Linked DNA regions of Homo sapiens. The protein of the gene in region 3 purifies or fractionates together with the protein of the main gene of each other region. This does not show direct contact. Each region holds a gene or a part of one and is shown on either strand. Other genes may lie near its edges.

Region 1 (7,305 bases), on a different chromosome or scaffold from region 3:
TTACAGGCATGAAGAACCATGCCAGGCCACAAGTGGCAGTTTCTTAAATGTTAGTCACAGTGTGTCATCTGAAGCCTTATAGGTGAACTTTTATACTGTGTTACATTAAAATCCATTGGTCTATCTTGCCCTTTCATTGGCTGCTTTACCCATATATGGTTTTATAACATCAGCCATTGGTCGTTTAGAAAATGTTGGTTCAGTGAGTTATGCAAATCTAAACGTTGACCTTTCAGATGCCATTATACGGTATTTAAAAAATCACATTTGTTAATATCACCACCTATTTCATTTTAAAAAGGAGTTTAAGTATTAGGAAACTATCAAACTCAAGGTAATGGAAACAAGTTTTCAACTTGTTTTCACTTGACAGCTTGAATTTTAACATTGGCAGCAAATATTGTCAGCTGTTTCCTTGAAGTGACAGACTCACTTATTTCATATTTGAGAAAATTTCTGCCAAATTCCCAAGACTGAATAACCAAAATTTGTCTATTATTTTATTTACTGCCATGTACTCACATTTAAAACAAACAAACAATTATTTTTATTTAAGAATGTCCTGATGGTTGGGTTCAGTGGCTCACGCCTATAGTCCCACCGCTTTGGGAGGCCAAGACAAGAGGATCTCTTCAGCCCAGAAATTCAAGACCAGCTTCGTCAACATAGTGAGACTCCATCTCTACTAAATAAATAAATAAAATAAATAAATAAATAAATAATAGTCAGGCATGGTAGCATGCACCTGTGGTTCTAGCTGCTAAGGAGACTGAGGTGTGGGGATCACTTGAGCCCAGGAGGTCAAGACCAGCCTGGGCAACTTAGTGAGACCCCATCTCTGTAAAAAGTAAAAAATTAGACAGGTATAGTGGCTCGTGCCTGTAGTCCCAGCCACTCAGGATCAGTTGAGCTTAGGAGGTTGAGGCTACAGTGAGCCATGACTGTGCCACTGCACTCCAGCCTGGGCAAAAAGACCTTGTCTAGAGAGAGAGAGAGCAGGGGGTGGGGTGGGGGGAGAGAGGAGAGAGAAAGGAAGGAAGGAAAGAAGGGAGGGAGAGGAGAGAGAAAGGAAGGAGGAAAGAAGGGAGGGATGGAAGAAGGGAGGGAGGAAGGAAGGAGGGAAGGTTTCTAGTACATTGTGGTAACATTGCCTTGATTCAGACTGCAAGCAGTTTTACCCACCATTGCTTTGTGTCATAAGTACAAATGTCAACACAGCCAGATGGGGTGGCTCACGCCTGTAATCCCAGCACTTTGAGAGGCCAAGGTGGGCGATCACCTGAGGTCGGGAGTTTGAGACTAGCCTGGCCAACATGGTGAAACCCTGTCTCTACTAAAAATACAAAAATTAGCTGGGCATGGTGGCACATAACTGTGGTCCCAGCTACTTGGGGGAGGCTGAGGCAAGAGAATCGCTTGAACCCAGGAGGCAGAGGTTGCAGTGAGCCAAGATCATGCCACTGTATTGCAGCCTGGGCAACAGAGTGAGACTGTCTCAAAAGAAAAAAAATTCAACACAGTGAAATACTCTTCAAATTATGATTAAAATACTTTTGTCTTTGTGGACCCCTCCTTCTCCCAGGATCTGCACCTTTGAGAAACATTGCTACAGTCCATTTTCAGGAAGGCTGCTTTGTGCCTTCTAATGAGCATCTCTGTACTTGCAGTCTTAGGACGTTATTGTAGCCTAGTAGAGGGGTATGTTCATTTTCAGATTGGCCCCCAAAAGGAAAAATTTATTCTCAGAAGTGTTTACCCTAGGGTCATATTTGACCTCCAAAGAATCCCATTTTCTGTTCTGATTTTTTAAACTTTGATTTACACTTTTTTTTTTTTTTTTTTTTTTGAGACAGAGTCTCGCCCTGTCACCCAGGCTGTAGTACAGTGGCGTGATCTTGGCTCACTGCAACCTCTGCCTCCCAGGTTCAAGCGATTCTCTTGCCTCAGCCTCCTGAGTAGCTGGGATTACAGGTGCACGCCACCACGCCTGGCTAACTTTTTTGTTTTTTGTTAGTAGAGATGGGGTTTCACCATGTTGGTCAGGCTGGTCTCGAACTCCTGACCTCAGGTTATCCACCTGCCTCAGCCTCCCAAAGTGCTGGGATTATAGCCATGAGCCACCGCACCTGGCCCTGATTTATACATAATTTTATAGGCACATACCTATTTATTGGATAAAGTGAAGCATACCTTATTGTGATTCTAACTAACTAGGTAAGCCAAGCCTGGCCTTATTAGAAAGATGTTTACTTCCTACGTTCACAAAAGCTTAAATGTCTAGCAGATGCCCTCCAAACTGGACTGTAATTTAGTTTATTCGGCATGTCTTAATCACCATAGCTTTTCACAACCCTTTCCCTGGCCTTTTGATTTTGACTTTGGGCAGGTCCTATCTGTTTCTGTGATGCAGTGTAATGTCCTTAGGTTTGGGGGCCAGATAGCCCTGGATTTGAATCTCTGCTGTACACTTTGACCTCTCTGAGCCTTGGTTTTCCTGTCAGTAAAATGGACATGATAATGAAGCCTACCTTGTTTTGTGGCTTCAATGAAACAATGCATCAAGTCTGGCATATAAAAAAATGTTCCTGGCTGGGCGCGGTGGCTCACGCCTGTAATCCCAGTACTTTGGAAGGCCGAGGCAGGCAGATCACCTGAGATCAGAAGTTCGAGACCAGCCTGACCAACATGGAGAAACCCTGTCTCTACTAAAAAAATGCAAAATTAGCTGGGTGTGATGGTGCATGCCTGTAATCCCAGCCACTTGGGGGGCTGAGGCAGGAGAATCGCTTGAATCTGGGAGGCAGAGGTTGTGGTGAGCCGAGATTGCGCCATTGCACTCCAGCCTGGGCAACAAGAGCGAAACTCCGTCTCAAAAAAAAAAAAAGTTCCTACAGCCAGGCGCGGTGGCTCATGCCTGACTTTGGGAGGCTGAGATGGGTGGATCACGAGGTCAGGAGTTCAAGACCAGCCTGGCCAAGATGGTGAAATCCTGTCTCTACTAAAAATACAAAAATTAGCCAGGTGTGGTGGCGGGTGCCTGTAATCCCAGATACTCGGGAGGCTGAGGCAGAGAATTGCTTGAACCTGGGAGGCGGAGGTTGCAGTGAGCTGAGATTGCACCACCGCACTCTAGCCTGGGCCAGTGAGTGAGACTCTGTCTCAAAAAAAAAAAAAAAGTTCCTATATAGTAGCTGTTGTTATCATTATCTGCAAATAGGCAGACTTATTCCACACAGTTGACAGAAGAGGGAAGCGTGCTGATGAAGCTCTCTAGCAGATGATAACTTTTGTAATTAGCACACTCTTTGCTTAAGAGAAAATCCAATGTTTGACATTTTTTATTCCATGAAGGTACATTGGCAGTGTGTGTTTTCTGCCTATGAAAATGTTCGCCTTTCTGTTAAAGTTGAATTTTCCCCAGTACTTTAAAAATATGAAATGGTTTAGGAAAAAAAATTCTATTTCATTTTCAAGGAACATAATAATTAGACAAAAGTTCAGCACATTGATATAATTAGAAAGGATTTGGAAGTTGTTCATTTGCTTTTCACTGCTCCCCTAGAGCAAATATTCAACATTTCCCTTGTTTATACTGTTCATTTGCTTAGCAAACTTTCTCAAATAATTAATAATGCCAAGATGATATTTAGCCTCACTTGTCCAAATAATCCCAGACTGCAAACAGGTGATGGTTGAATTAGGAAGGTTTTGCTGAGAGTACACCATCGGTTTAGCTGGTCTCTCCTGTCCTTGTGTGGTATTTACCTGGCTTCTTGGTGATTTGTCTGTTTCTCTTACTACTTAAACCCAGCAAAAAAAATAATAAAATAACAATCAAATGCAATAAAACAAAGCAAGCATTCAGCAGGTGAAATAAACATACATCCCATAGACTCTTTGTGTCTGTTCTGTTTTCTTCTTGTTCCAATCCTTCTATCTGATTAGTTTCTTTTCTCTCAGATTTTTTCAGAGTTCGTTCCTCCTGTCACTTTAACTTATAGGAAGTCGGCCCATAATGTTTTGCTTATTTTTCCTTATGAGATTCATTCCATGATTCAACATTTCAGTGCCTTCCGTGCATTGGAATTCAGAGATGCCAAAATGAGTAAGATTGAATCCAGGTGAAGGCGATATGGGAATTCATTGTACTATTCTTGACATTTTTCTGTGAAGTTGATTTTTTTTTTTTTTTTTGAGGTGGAGTCTCACTTTGTAGCCCAGGCTGGAGTACAGTGGCGCGATCTTGGCTTACTGCATCCTCCGCCTCCCGAGTTCCAGTGATTCTGCTGCCTCAGCCTCCTGGGTAGCTGGGATTACAGGCACATGCCACCACGCCCAACTAATTTTTGCATTTTTAGTACAGACGGGGTTTCACCATGTTGCCCAGGCTGGTCTCGAACTCCTGACCTTAGGTGATCCAACCCTACCCCTTGGCCTCCTAAAGTGCTACGGTTACAGGTGTGGATTTTTTTTTTTTTTTTTTTGAGACAGAGTCTTGCTCTGTTGCCCAGGCTGGAGTGCAATGGTGAGATAACTCACTGGTGCGTCCATCTCCTGGCTCAAGCGATCGTCCCATGTCAGCTGTCCAAGTAGCTGGGACTACAGGTGTGTGCCACCATGCCCAGCTAATTTTTTATTTTTTGTGGAGATGGGGGTCTTGCTATGTTGTCCAGGCTGGTCTCCATCTCCTGAGCTCAAGTGATCCTCCCACCTTGGCCTCCCAAGTTGCTAAGATTACAGGCATGAGCCACTATGCCTGGCTGGAAATGAATTCTTTATATCAGAGCTTGCACAAGTGGGCTGAAACAGCCCACATGCATGTTTATTTGGCTCATAATGTTTTGTTTTTTAAATTTTTGAATTAGTTGTCAACATTGAAAAATGAGCAGATTTCTTATAAATACCTGATTGTGGTATTTTCTTGAAAATATCAATAAAGTCTGTTAACACCAAATCAGAATTCTGCATGGCAACAATTGTCCCACCACCCGAGTTAAGTGGAGACTTTGCCCTTTAAGAGGGAGGTGGGCCTGTCTAATGACTGGCTTCTCTCATTGTGTCTGTCACTCCTAGGCCTGTCAGCATTTGTACTTAGAATTCTACTTTAGTATTAACTTGTACAGTTGTGAAAACTCCTGTGGACTTCCTTGTATGCCATACTGGACTATACTTATTCTTTTTGTTTGTTTTTTTGTTTTTAGATAGAGTCTTGTTCTCTCACCCAGGCTGGAGTGCAGTGGTGCGATCTCAGCTCACTACAGCCTCTGCCTCCTGGGTTCCAGTGATTCTCCTGCCTCAGCCTCCTAAGTAGCTGGGATTACAGGTGTGTGCCACCACACCTGGCTAATTTTTGTATTTTTAGTAGGGATGGGGTTTCATATGTTGGCCAGGCTGGTTTCGAACTCCTGACCTCAAGTGATCTGCCTGCCTTGGCCTCCCAAAATGCTGGGATTACAGGCATGAGTCACCATGCCCAGTTTCTTTTTGTTTTAATCTGAAAAAAAGGGAATATATTATCTGCCTTTAGAAACTTCATAGTATGGTGAGAAAGCAGACATAAACAGATGACTACATTTCAACATGGGAGTCCTTAGAAGATAATATTTGTAGAGGTCTTCCCCTTTCCCAAAGCAGTGTGGCCCACTGCCTGCTATTGTAAATAAAGTTTTATTGGAATGCAGCAGCACCCTTTCACATACATATAGTCCATGGCTGTTTTCTTGCAGAGTTGAGTAGTTGTAAAAGAGACTTATGTGGCCCACGGGCCAAAAATATTTACTATCTGGGCCTGTACAGGAAACGTTTGCTGACTGTTGCCGTGGCAGATCTGATTTGATTCCTGAGACAGCTCAATGGGATACTGTGATTGTGTCTGTTTTATACCACACACCTAGTAGGTAGCAGAGCCAGGACTCAGTCGAATAAGGTCTACACTTGGTAGTATGTTATGGAAGGCCCATTTCAGCCTTGTTACTGCCAGTGTGTGGCCAGGTTCTCACACCTGGAGAGTGAGTCTGTGGGGAAGAACTGGCCACTGGGCTGATGGAATAATATACATTTTGAAAGGTACCCGTTTTGACTACATTCCCAGCTCCCTCAGCATCTGGTCCCATGACTGCTTCTCTCTTTCCAAATGGGAGTAGGCTAATGCAGAGCAATGTGGTTGGTTGCAAGGAAGAACTTGAAACTGTTTGCAGAGCACTTTATGTAAAAGTAAGAAAGTGTGACTACTGATGTCCCATGGGGCTTTGCAGCTTTAACAATTGCCCTATGGATCATATCACCTTGAAGTATAGAATTTCTCTGGGGAATTAGCTCCCCTCCAGTCTCATCTTTTTAGACACTTGCCTACCTGCTCTCACACCCAGAGGTTTTACACTGCGCTGTACAGTGTCTATCAATATGTTTTTCCATATTCAAAAATAGTGATTTCAGGCCAGGCATGGTGGCTCATGCCTGTAGTCCTAGCACTTTGGGAGGCTGAGGCAGGAGGATCAGTTGAGCCCAGGAGTTTGAGATCAGCCTGGGCAACACGGTGAGACCCCACCTCTACAAAAAATTGTTAAAAATTATTTGGGCATGTTGACACATGCCTGTGGTTTCAGCTACTCGGGAGGCTGAGGTGGGATCACCTTAGCCCAGGAGGTTGAGACTACAGTGAGCTGTGATCATGCCACTGCACTCTAGCCTGGGCAACAGAGCAAGACCCTGTCTCAAAAAAAAAAAAAAAATAGTAAGGTCATGGTGGCTCATACCTATAATCTCAGCACTTTGGGAGGCCGAGGCAGGCGGATCACTTGAGGTCAGAAGTTTGAGAACAGCCTGGCCAACATGGTGAAACCCCGTCTCTAGTAAAAATACAGAAATTAGCCAGGCATGGTGGCACCTGCCTATAATCCCAGCTTCCTGGGAGACTGAGGTGGGAGAATCATTTGAATCCAGGAGGCAAAGGTTGCAGTGAGCCTAGATCGCGCCACTGCACACCAGCCTGGGCGACAGAGCGAGACTCTGTATAAAAAAAATAAATAAATAAAAAATCCAGGTGTGGTGGCTCACGCCTGCAATCCCAACACTTTGGGAGACTGAGGCGGGCAGATCACGAGGTCAGGAGTTCAAGACTAGCCTGGCCAACATGGTGAAACCCCGTCTCCACTAAAAATACAAAAATTAGCCGGGCGTGGTGGCGGGTGCCTGTAATCCCAGCTATTCAGGAGGCTGAGGCAGGAGAATCGCTTGAACCTGGGAGGCAGAGGTTGCAGTGAGCTGAGATCGCGCCACTGCAGTCCAGCCTGGGCTATAGAGTGA
Region 2 (4,778 bases), on a different chromosome or scaffold from region 3:
GGTACGTCCAACACCAAGTGGGCCAAGTGAATCAGGGTCGCTGGGCATTAGACCCAGAAATCTGTGTTCTGGAAGCATCCCAGGTGTTTCTCAGGAGTTTGAGAAGCCCTCAGTCTCCTTCCACTTCCGAGATTAGGGTCTGTGAAGGTTGTGTCTGGTCTGAATGTCCACTGCCCACTCCACCCTCTACTTACCCCACTGTGCCCTGATTAGCCAGCAGGGGGAGCCCAAAGGAAGCCAGCTCTTAAAATCTGCTCTTGGAAACAGAATTTGTTAAATTGGGGATAAACTCAAACCTTCCTTTTCTCCTAGAGTGTGTGAGGAAGTGCACTGGCCTCATGCGCAGTTCTCTGTGTGAGATCTGTAGGGAGAGAGGAGCAGACAGACAGCATCCCAGCCCTGTGGTTCTCCCAGCAGGGCCTTGCTCTGCTAGACCCATCTTTATCTGCGTGAGCCCCTCCCGGAAGCCCAGCTCTGGTCTTCTGTGGGGCCGTGGGTCCCAGGGCTGCCTCCTACCCAGGAATACAGCTAGAACATGTCTTTTTGGACTGACTTTCAGGAGACACAGGGTGGAACAGCCTAGCCTTTAAATAAACACCTCTTACACACATGTAAACACACACACTGGCTCACCCACCAGCTGCCTCTGGGCCCTGTTCTTAGGGAAATGGCTGTTTCCCAGGCAGACCCCATCAGTCAGTCTTCAGGTACAGCCGGAGAGAACACTTGCTGTATCTAAAGCCCCTGCTGGACAATGGGGAAAGAACATCCAGAAGACACAGGAAGTGTTCTGACTTCAGAGCACTTAACTGTTTTGCTAAACCAACCCATATCATAGTGTGACAGAAAGCTGGGGTCTTAAGACACATTGGGGTGGGTGGGGGTTGGGTGGGTGGCTGTATGTCTGAGTACCTAAGGTGATAGGCCTAATTGCTGCCTTCATAAATGGGACATTTACTTCACAAGCTGTTTTCCCAGGGTCTTCCTCTGGGTATGTCTGAAATATAAAAATCTGGACTGGGATTGAAGATTGTGTTTACAAATGCTTTTGAATAGGATTTCTCCTGCAGTTGTTACGTAGCTTTTCAGAAACACACAAACTACAAATAATGAACAACATCTGCAATGATTCGGCAGGGTGGCAGCATCCACGCTCTCCACCCAAACCCTGGTGGGATTTGGAGAGGCCGCTGGTGGGCAGAGGTTGGCCCTAAGCATGGCAGCCTCCGGCTTACTGCACCCAGCCTGTGGGGCGGCTCAGTAGCCGCTGACATGGTGGCCTGTTGTCTCTTCTCTTGTTCTAGTAAGCACTATCCTTTGTACTCCCTCAACGTGGCCTCCATGTGGTTGAAGCTAGGGAGACTCTACATGGGCCTGGAACACAAAGCCGCAGGGGAGAAAGCCCTGAAGAAGGTATGTCTGTAACTCGGCCTTAGGATTCCCAGTGGCCAGATGGCCTCCTTAGCGCACCTCCTTCATGCCTCACCAGGCTGAATGGCTGAAGCAGTGGAGGGTGAGCAGCTCTCACCCACCCTCTTGCCGTGGGAGCAGCGGGGGTGGGTCCTGCAGGTGAGGGGGGAGTGAGAGAGTGCACCTCTGCTGTGTTTGTGTCCAGGCCTCCCTCAAAGGGAATGGGTGCCCACATCCAGAGGGCTGGCCGTGATCACAGGCCCAGCCTGTGCCTGGAGGAATTCTCCATTTGTTTGACCTTTGGGATTTTCAGAATGATGATCCCCAGTTGTGAAATCAAGGAGGTAGGATATGGAGAGTTAGGGTTAGGATGTTAGAATTGCGCATTTGCTGTTTCTAAAATGCACTTAATCATCCTCTCAGTTCATTGAGGACCAGTTACATACCAAGACCCTCGTGTGCTTTTCCTTTGAATTCTCACAAAACCGAGAGGCTTTCCTGATGAAGAAAGTGAGGTTCAAGCAGGTTTAAGTGAGTAATAGCCTAGGGTACATGGTGGGGCCTTCATTCAAATGAGGGTCTAAATTGAAAGCTTCGGCTCCTCCCACTCAAGCTGTGATGAAACTGGTGGGGAGCCAGAACCCTGGGCAGCATTCGCCTTTGGTTTGATGGCGGCCCTGTGCTGCCCAGGAGCCAGGCCCCGACCCTCACATCATGGGAGGTCAGAGTCATCATCCTGAGTATTGATTCTCATTGTTTGTGATGTGGAATTCACAGTCAATACAGTGTAATTTAGGGGATAGTCCATTTACTCCTGTAAGAAACTTTATAAAATGCTGGGGCCATGGACAGGGCCTGCAGGCCTAATCTTTCACCTTCTCCAAAGTTTCCCAATAGACTATTTGCGAAGATGGAATAAGGCCCACATCCCAAATAGAAGGGTCAGGGCACAGCCAGGCTGGAAGGGAGCACAGAACAAAATTTTCTGTTTTAAACCATGGAATTTGTCTTCTGAGAATTAGCCATTTGGGTCACAACTGCAAAGTGTGTCAGGTGATTAAGTAATAGATCAATGAAAGCTGGAGCAGATCTGAGCAAGGAACATGAGTCTTGAAATGAATGCCTGGGCAGAGTCGGCACCTGGAACAGGTGATTTCCGAAGGCTTGCACTGTTACTTGGCCTGCCTCCTCTTGGCTTGAGATCTAGGAGGAGAATATATAATAGATAGGAATGCCTGTCATAGTCACAGGCCATTAAAAATTCTCTGGGGGAATACTTTTTTCTCTGAGTAATTTGGCTGAATACAAAAGAGCAAATACATTCTTAGAGATGACATTTGATATAAACTTCCTGTATGCCAGGCGCTGTTCGAAACACTGTATCTGAATTAACAACCCTGAGAGGTAGGTATTATTCCAGTTTTACAGTTCAGGAAAATGAGGCACAGAGTGGTTAAGTAAATTACCCAAGGCCACACAGCTAGGAAATGATTAAACCACTGGAAACTTGACCATGTTACATTGCCTCACTATAAAGAAACCTTAAGTACATTCTCTAGCATCCCTCAATGAAACCTGCTACCTTTCTTTTAAGTTTTTAGAATATGTATTAAAAGGAAAGAGTATGCTTTTCGAAAGGGAAAAATAGTTTAGCTACGTCTTGCAGGTTAGTAATGTCAACTAAAAATCAAAATAGCTTTGATATAAAATTCACTATGGACTTTACCAGCATCACCTATTTTCTGGGTTGAACATAATCAAAAAAATTAGTCCTTAAAGCATGTTTTACTGAAAGATCTAGAATCTTGGGGCAAGAGAATGTCATGAAATCAGTTTCATGACATCGTTTCTCCAGCTGGATATTTTTGCAGAATGTTTTACCTAGCAGTAGACACTGGATGAGTTAGCTACCAGATGGTCTTCTCCTTTTTTAAAAAAAAACCAAGGCCAGGCACGGTGGCTCATGCCTGTAATCCCAGCACTTTGAGAGGCCAAGGCGGGCGGATCACGAGGTCAGGAGATCGAGACCATCCTGGCTAACACAGTGAAACCCCGTGTCTACTAAAAATACAAAAAATTAGCCAGGCATGGTGGTGGGCGCCTGTGGTCCCAGCTACTCGGGAAGCTGAGGCAGGAGAATGGCGTGAACCCGGGATGCGGAGCTTGCAGTGAGCGGAGATCGCACCACTGCACTCCAGCCTGGGCGACAGAGCGAGACTCCGTCTCAAAATAAATAAATAAATTAAAATAAAAACAGGTCCTGGTGGAGAACATAGGCTCTAATGGCCAGTTTGCATCCTGTGCCTTAAAGCAGAGAGATCCAACTTAAAGTTACCCTGGGTGGAGGTGTGAGGAGATTGGCTTCTAGGCTCTCATTGTTTGTCTTGCTTTTTCCTAGGCCATTGCAATCATGGAAGTAGCTCACGGCAAAGATCATCCATATATTTCTGAGATCAAACAGGAAATTGAAAGCCACTGAAACTATGCAGCATTTCAGTTTTCATTTAAACACTTAGTTCAGAAACCTTAAAGGATTTGAATATTTCAAATTGCACACGTCACTCCAGCATCTCTGTAAAATAATTGGAATGAAAATACTTCTTGCACTTAAACACTGCACATGCCGTACTTTGAGGTTAGTCTGAATCTTGAACTTTAATACCAAATTAATTTTGAATGCTTTTGTTTCCTAAGAGATAATGGCATGGTTTCATATGTTATACTTTGGACAGACAGAGTTTTAAAAATGGAATTATTTTTTCTTTCATGCCTCTTGTAATGTTCTGAACAAACTTGAATGATGAAAGTATTAAAGAGATATCAGTATTTGAGGTTTGTATTTTCTTCTGTCTCTGGGGAGGATTTCTCAGTGGTGGTGGGAGCCCAGTCTTGGAGTGAAAGTGACACCTGCTGTCCATAATTCAGCAAGCTCAAGTCTTCTCCATGGGACTGGGGTCGGGCAGCCTCTTTATTCTGCAGTTGCTCTTGTGGGGCTGTGCCTGTGGAGGAAGAAAATGGGAAGAAAGAGAAAAAGGTACACGAAGGAAAGAAAACTATCATCTATCTGTGGTGGAGGAACAGTCCAGTGACCCAAGTGCCCTCCAGCAGGCGAGGTTTTGAATCTGTTCTCTGGTGCCTGGTATTCCTTCAGTGTGTAAAGGTGCTTAGTGCGTGCTTTGCTTTCTTGGCTTTTCTGTCCCCATCTGTCTGAAAGCAGACTTGCCATCTCTCATTCTGTTGATTGTTCTGTGCAGTACTCTCCTTTTTGGAAAAACTCCAGGGTATGCTTGGGAAGGAAAAAAATGTTTTTCCTTACCAACCAACGCTGTGTTGTTGAGTAAACACTGATCTCTACCCACACAGACAAC
Region 3 (7,305 bases):
GCAGAACTCAATTTGTCAAAAACTCTCTATGATACAATAATCAAAGCAAAAACTGACTGTGATGATGTCATCTGACAGATGTCCGAGGAAAGATATCTCACTGGTTGGTGGCCCGAGAGAGGCCTCTTATGCTTCTAAGATCCAATGGATCTGTCCCACCTCTTGGCCCTCTGGTGCCATCCTGGGCTTCACTGCTGCTGGACATGCTGTTCTTCCCCTTCACAGACTACTTCCTTTCAGTCACCTTTTCAGTTTCTTCTCCATCCCCCACCCATGGCCTCCAACTCTGCAGCCCTCTGCTCTCCTCTCTCTGTCTTGTCTCCAGAGTTCCATCTTCTCACCCGACCTGGACCATTACTCCCATTCCCACAGGCACTGCAGCTTTTTTTCAGAACTGAAAGTTTAAATTCCCCCTTTATCCTTCTCCTTCTTCCCCTACAACCAAAAAGAAATAAAATAGCTCTCTGATTCACTCCCTGCTCCTTTTTGCCTGTGGTCACTGTAATTCGAGGCTTGGCCACTCATACTGGATCACTCTATACCTGTCATCTGGATCTCTCTTCTTCCAGATCATCCTGGGGCCTGTCAGGCCAATCTTCTAAGAACAAAATGTCAATCCTGATGAAGTCTAGCAATATTTAGAAGCCACATTCCAAACCAGAGGGTGAGGAATTTCATGCATCAAGAGGGCCTGCCATTCTCACCCCATTCCTCCCTTCTGACTCCAGCTCAGCCTGTGCCGCCATCTCCCTCACCTGGATGACAGCTACAGCTTGCTGGCCCCTCCCCTACTCAGCACACAGGTGTTGATACAACCACATCACTCCTTCAGTTAAAACCCTTCAGGGACTTCTCATCGCTCATGAAGCAAAATCCAAATTTCTTACAAGGCCCCAAAAATGCCTCATACTACACATTACGTCACCTCCTTTCTCACTATGCTCTGGCCACACTGGCTTCTGCCATTCCTCTCACAGGACAAGCCCTCTCCTGCCTCTAGACCTTTGCACTTGCTGTTTCCTCTCTCCCTGGTGTGCTCTGCCCTCAGCTCTCTGCACATTTGGTTCCTTCTCATTCTTTGGGGCCCAGTCAAGTTGCTTATTCAGAGAGGCCTTACCTGACCATTCTTTTACAATCTGTGATTACTATTTGTCTATTTGTTAAAGTCTCTCTCCCACCACTAGCAGATAAGCTGTGTGAGGGTGAGGATGTTGTTTGCAAAGCTGCTGTATAAAGCTGCTGTATAAAGCCACTGTGTAGACTACAGTGTGAAGGAATTCCCCAGGGTTGTGTGACCCAGTGGCCCTGCCTGGCTGTTTTGTTCACAATAATATTCGCAGTGCTTGGCATGCAGTAGATGCTTGATACATATGTACTGAATGAATGATTCACTAATGCTGTAAGTTTGGAATATAGAAAATCAGGAGAGAGGCTTGGATACCCACCAAACTATAGCATTGACATTTAACCCCCATAGTACTGCCAGGACAGTGTGACTAAGCTCCTACCCTGGTTTCCCTATTGGCCATTTCCCCTAAACCTGGTCTGGTAGAGGGGCCTCAGACATGCCGCCCAGCTTTTGCCAGTTCCTCCCTCCCTGGAGGCTGGACCCAGTTTCCTATACCATATTTCTTATCTTGGGTGACTATAAAAGATAAAAATGTGAGGCCTGGGCCCAGGCACGGTGGCTCATGCCTGTAATTCCAGCACTTTGGGAGGCCGAGGCTGGTGGATCATTTGAGATCAGGAGTTCAAGACCAGCCTGGCCAATATGGTGAAACCCTGTCTCTACTAAAAAATACAAAAATTAGCCAGGCATGGTGGTGGGCACCTGTAGTCCCAGCTACTCAGAAGGCTGAGTCAGGAGAATCGCTTGAACCCAGGAGGTGGAGGCTACAGTGAGCCAAGATGGCGCCATTGCACTCCAGCCTGGGTGGCAGAGAGAGACTCCAACTCAAAAAAAAAGTGAGGCTTGGGCTTCAGCAAATATTTCTATGATGTTCCCCTCAGTTCTGAAGGGAAGCCCCCTAGTATCTGCCTTCTAAAACAGAACCTTTGTGAATATGTGATTCCAAGGACAGGGTTTCTTATTAATAATCAAAGTAAAGCCAAGTCATTTATATTACCAGGCAAGTATCGAGAGTGCTTCAAATAGTGCTGCTTGGCTGCAGATCTCAGGGTGGGCGTGTCTCGCCGCTGATATGACGTCTGGGTGGGGGCACTGTTTCCTGTGCCCACAGGCTCAGAGGGCTTCAGGTCCAAAACACTCTCAAACCTGAATGAAGAGAGCATGGCTTGGGTCAGCACGAGAGACAGTATGTATTCTCGGATATGTACCCATAATCTCATGAATTCCAGATTCAGTCTGTTTACAAATGTGAGCAGCACACTTGCCTGCAGAGAGTGTCATCACTCTGTCTTTTCTTGTTTTTCAGGTCAATCCTGCTGAGGGATGGACTGAAATCCAAGTCATCCAAGTCAGCCCAATCATCTGAATCCTTTGTTGACCTGGAAATAAGACCCCACCTTCTCCTACTCTTTGGCTTTATCTCACCATTTTTGTGCTCCAGGCCAGCTGTGATTTTCTGTGTAAACAAACGGGGTGGGGGAAAGCAATACTTGGCATTAACAGAACTCATCCATGAGTAATCTCCATCTGAACTTTCTCTGCTATGCAAAGGAGGCTCCTGGGGCATAACATTGCTTATCTGAAGGGGCAACTGTAGAAAACACATTCCCAATCTTTCTGTCTCACTCATCCTTCACAGATTGTATCAGCTGCCATCCATTGATGATGTTAAAGTTGTATAAAATAAGGATAAAAAAATTTTTAAGATACTTCTTACACACCAGGAAGATGGCTAAATTCATACTCAGTCTCATCCTAGATGAGTTAATATGATCTCTGTTATAAATATGGATGTAAGAAATTAAGGCTAAGATGTCAGTTAGCCTGTCCTTTTACAGAAATCAATGCAAATAATGCTTTTTTTTGCCTTCTCAGTATATATAGTTACTATCTCTTAGCTATAAAGAATTAGCTACAACAGGACATTTCCATACACATACCACTTCTAAATTGTGTGCTGCAATAAAGTGACTAGGCCAGAGATACCACCCTTGCATCTCACATTGTGGTGGTTGGGAGCCAGCAGTCAGCAAATACTAACTGACACAGAAAGTGCCACTTTTTCATAAAGGATAGACAGTTGGCCTCTTCAGACAGCACTGCAAAGCTAATAAAAAATAGAACCCCTTGTCAGGTTATTATTTTACTAAATCTAACACTCATTTTTTTCTTTTGAAAAGCAGCCAAAGAGGAGCAGAAAGATCTGGGCTCAGTTAATAGCCCAGCATTAACATATTGAATAACAGCAGTAATGTGGATAACAATCTACAAATATTAACACAGCGCTTTATGCTTTTCAAAATATCTTAAAAACATCATGGCCTTTGATCCTCATGAACAACCCTGTCTGGTAGGTAAGACATGCACTATAATCTTCCTTTGATAAATGAGGAAACTGAATCCATAGGGATTAATAACAATTACTGACCTTTACAGAGTTGTAACTAGGTGCCAGGTATTATTCTAAATTCTTTTCAAGTATTAACTCATTAGTCCTCAAAGCAATTGTATCAGGTAAGTACTATTATTATCCTTATTTTACAGATGAGGAAAATGAGGAGCAGAGAAGCCAGATAACTTGCATAGGTATCAAGCTACTAAACAGCAGAGCTGAGATTTGAGCCCCTGGCAGTCTGGCTGCAGAGGCCAGCTCCCAGCCACTACCCTATAGCTGCCTCCATTAGTGACAACGGTTTTAACAGGCACAGCCAGAACTTGAATTTAGATCTTTCACTCCAAAGCCAAGGGTCTTTACAATTCCATGCTGTTGCAAACATAAATCTACCATAACTGGACCCTGTATACTGAAAAAGAAAATATTTCACACAATAATGGGGTCAGAAGAGGAATAAACAGACACGAAGCTCACTGGTGAATCTGGGCTGCTCACCGACTGTGGATGCTTGTTGTGGAGGGATGGGAAAAGCAACGGGCTTGGCTTGTCCTCCTGGAGATGGCTTGGGTGATCTGTCCTGGAGACCTCTGCTTTGTAGGGGTACGTGAGATGCAGAGGGGGCTGGCTGGCTTGATGCTGTCGTGAAGAAATTCGTGTGTGTGGCTTGGCTGGTGGCTGGGCAGGTGGGACTGGCTTAATATAAGGAGGTGGGCCTGCCTTTTCCAGGATGCCTTTCTGTGGTTTTTCTGAATCCTGAAGGTTTTGTGTGGTGCTGCCTAGTGGGTGTCCAACTTGGAAGTAAGGATATCGAAGTGCCTGGAATGACAAATAAGGCTTTAGGAGAAAAGTCTAGCCAGGAAAGTTACCACTGTCTTGATTACTGGGCTATATTTCATTGTGACCAGTTTACTACTGTTTCTTAGCCCAATTAGAAAACAGTACCTTGAATTTTTAACACCCCTTGTGATTTTTCTTATCTAAGATACCATAAAATATATGTAATGATTGCAACACAAAGTTATTTATATATAGTAGCCAGTTACACTGCTGTTACCCTGGCTACTTCTAAAAAGCATTCTGGATCAACACAGATCCTGGTTTTGTAACTTATTTGCTATGTGTCTTAAATAGAGTATTTCATCCTTCCAAGCCTATTTCCTCATTCCACAGAAGAAGAAAAAAATAATACAAAACTGAAAGAGCCAAACATAATGATCCTGGAAGACTCTGAAGAATTGAGTACAAAATAAGCAGGCACATATGCTTTTATCCCAAAAGTGCCAAGAGTGTAATACATGATATAGTTAACCCTTCCCTATCAAGAACAAAACCGTGTCAGTTGTTCTGGATAACTGAGTTTTCTGGATAGCCAAGAGATAACTTAAAGTTTAGGGGGTTACAATTCTTTCTGAAATATTTCCTATATTCTCTTGTCTTTCTGAATGAAAGTTATTAAGCATAACATAATCTTTCTGAGTAGGCCTGGGACAGTTATAAACATCTGTAATGATTATATGCAAGTGTAGATACAGAGGCAATTAATGGGAATAGCCTGGTAGAGGTCCCAGACTCTAGCATCTATTATAACTTGAAAGCCTTCTCTGTAGTCACAGACATTTTTGCAAGTCTTAACTGATTTGGGGGGTATTTTTAGCTTTTCACACTATTCTTAAAAGCATACATTCCTCTCTTGCTTCCTTGTTACAGAATCTTTTTCTTTCCATTTCTTACATGCATCTGTTAAAAAACTGGGTTCATCCAAAAGCTTCTTTTCTGCCCTGCAGCCATTTGTGAATTTCACCACCAGAACTGCATTCCTGAGAGCTTTCCAGCCCTTGAGCCATCCAAAGTCTTACGGCACCAAATTGTAGTTCTTTTTTCCTTGAGCTTTCAGAAAATTGCTTTTCTACACTCCTTAATTATTCCTCCAACTATCATCTCCCCAGCTATCACAAATTCTACCACCACATTGGCACTTTTCTTCAAATATCCTCATCACTCTTCTTCTGAACATCTTCTCTGATTAGAATTGGTCACTTATATGATCCTCTGAGCAATGTAATTGTCAGTGAGACAAGTTGAGAAGGGGCCAGATGTAACTACCACAAAAGGAGGCTTGCAAGATGCCTGTGAGTGATAAGAGCCCCCAGCGTTACCATACCTCTTTTGGGTATATTTCATTATTTAAGTCTAAGTGGCCCATGGGAGGATGGATTGGGAAAGGAGCTATGAAACCAGTGGACCTGACTTCATACTTCCGGTCAGTTGGTTGAATTGTAGTTAGTTGCACTATTTGAACTAATTAATGGATGAGTGATTAGAGCAAATTGCTTAAACTTTCCAAGATTGAGTTTTCTCACTCACAGAATTGAAAACAATAATGCCTGTCTCATGGAGTCTTTATTGGATTAAAAATCATATAAAATATATTCAAGCATTTGCACACTGTAAAGTGCTATGAAATACTAAGTGCAGTTACTATCCTAGGTCTATCTCATCTGTCAATCTCTTCAGGTTATGAGTCAGTTGGACTTTTACATAATATGAAGTTGCCTTTCAACAACCAGTACCGGCTTATAAACAAACTACTATATAATTGTAACTCATAGAGAATAGATTTGAAAACATTCTCCAAAGACAGATAAATATATGTTTATTTCCATTTCCATATAAATGGTGATATATCATGTGAATTACATGCCAATTTTCAAAGCAACTATATTGTTTACATTGTAACTACTTTATACCCAGTAAGTTTCAAACTATTTTAAGTTCTCATACCTTATATAGTACACCATTAGTGGTATTCTGTACTATTTCTCACCCATAATACTAAATACTAAATATTTCCTGTGCAATTCATAGAAATTATTCAGAGTTAGATATGAACGTTATAACAAGAAAATGGAAGAAAACCTGACTAGCTGTTGGTCGTTTCTTGGGATCCCACTGAAGCATGTCTCTCAGGAGCTGGACTGCTTCACTGCTAGCATTGGGAATCAAGGTCTTTAAGTTATTGGGTACACACTGTGGCCAACGGAAGTTCATTGCACTTGAAAGTTGATAGCCTTCAGGCCAGTCAGTCTGAAAGAAGGAAAAGATAGAAAATCTTGCTCAGCCAATTGCTGTGATATAAGTTTGTATTCTGGCATGTGTGCCCCAAATGGAAAGGCAACCATGTCATTACCCACCCACATTCATTAACCACCCACATTCACTACTGTGGCACTGTATGGAATGAGACATAGATTTAGATTAATAGAGAGACCACCAAGACCATGAAATCTGGGGGAATAGTGGAAAAGACACTGGATTTGCCAACTTAATTATCTTTACATAAGAGATTCTCTTGAGATTTTGGGATTGAAACAAATTAATATTTCCCCAACTGTGTTCCATGAGACAGAGGTTCTGAAAACTGCCAATGAGATATTCTTTTGGGGAAAACAAAATAAAACAAAACATTTTGTTCCTGGACAAATAAATTTGTGAAACTCTACCTACAGTATCTTCAACTTGGTGATTGAAAGTATACATGTGGAGAAAACCAGCAGTAAAGAAAGGTGTTTCACCCAGTCTCAAGCTTTCCACTTTTTCATGCATCATTTCTATGGGACACTAAATGCTGGAGGGAATGATGGAAAATGCTAAAGAAATGGTCTTTAAGGTTCCTTCTAGTTCTAACACTCTACTATTTTATAACATACAGCCTAAGGTAATTGTTCCTCCACTCCTTTTTAAAGCCAAGTGGCAATACATATAGCTTTTATCGTTCATTCAC

The links.
Region 1: the proteins of CILK1 (region 3) and KATNIP purify together in Homo sapiens (affinity purification with mass spectrometry; 3 studies listed by BioGRID and IntAct, with this or other methods). This does not show direct contact.
Region 2: the proteins of CILK1 (region 3) and SMYD2 purify together in Homo sapiens (affinity purification with mass spectrometry; 2 studies listed by BioGRID and IntAct, with this or other methods). This does not show direct contact.

What each region holds. Positions count from the first base shown.
Region 1 is NC_000016.10:27,552,966-27,560,270, forward strand, and holds part of KATNIP (katanin-interacting protein), read left to right. Parts: intron 1-648; exon of another isoform or gene 649-668; intron 669-7,305. UniProt on the Homo sapiens protein: May influence the stability of microtubules (MT), possibly through interaction with the MT-severing katanin complex.
Region 2 is NC_000001.11:214,332,896-214,337,673, forward strand, and holds the end of SMYD2 (N-lysine methyltransferase SMYD2), read left to right. Parts: intron 1-1,304; coding exon 1,305-1,413; intron 1,414-3,808; coding exon 3,809-3,889; 3' UTR 3,890-4,236; downstream 4,237-4,778. UniProt on the Homo sapiens protein: Protein-lysine N-methyltransferase that methylates both histones and non-histone proteins, including p53/TP53 and RB1. Specifically trimethylates histone H3 'Lys-4' (H3K4me3) in vivo. The activity requires interaction with HSP90alpha.
Region 3 is NC_000006.12:53,009,643-53,016,947, forward strand, and holds part of CILK1 (serine/threonine-protein kinase ICK), read right to left. Parts: intron 6,609-7,305; coding exon 6,441-6,608; intron 4,341-6,440; coding exon 4,020-4,340; coding exon of another isoform or gene 3,999-4,019; intron 2,586-3,998; coding exon 2,395-2,585; intron 2,276-2,394; coding exon 2,127-2,275; intron 1-2,126.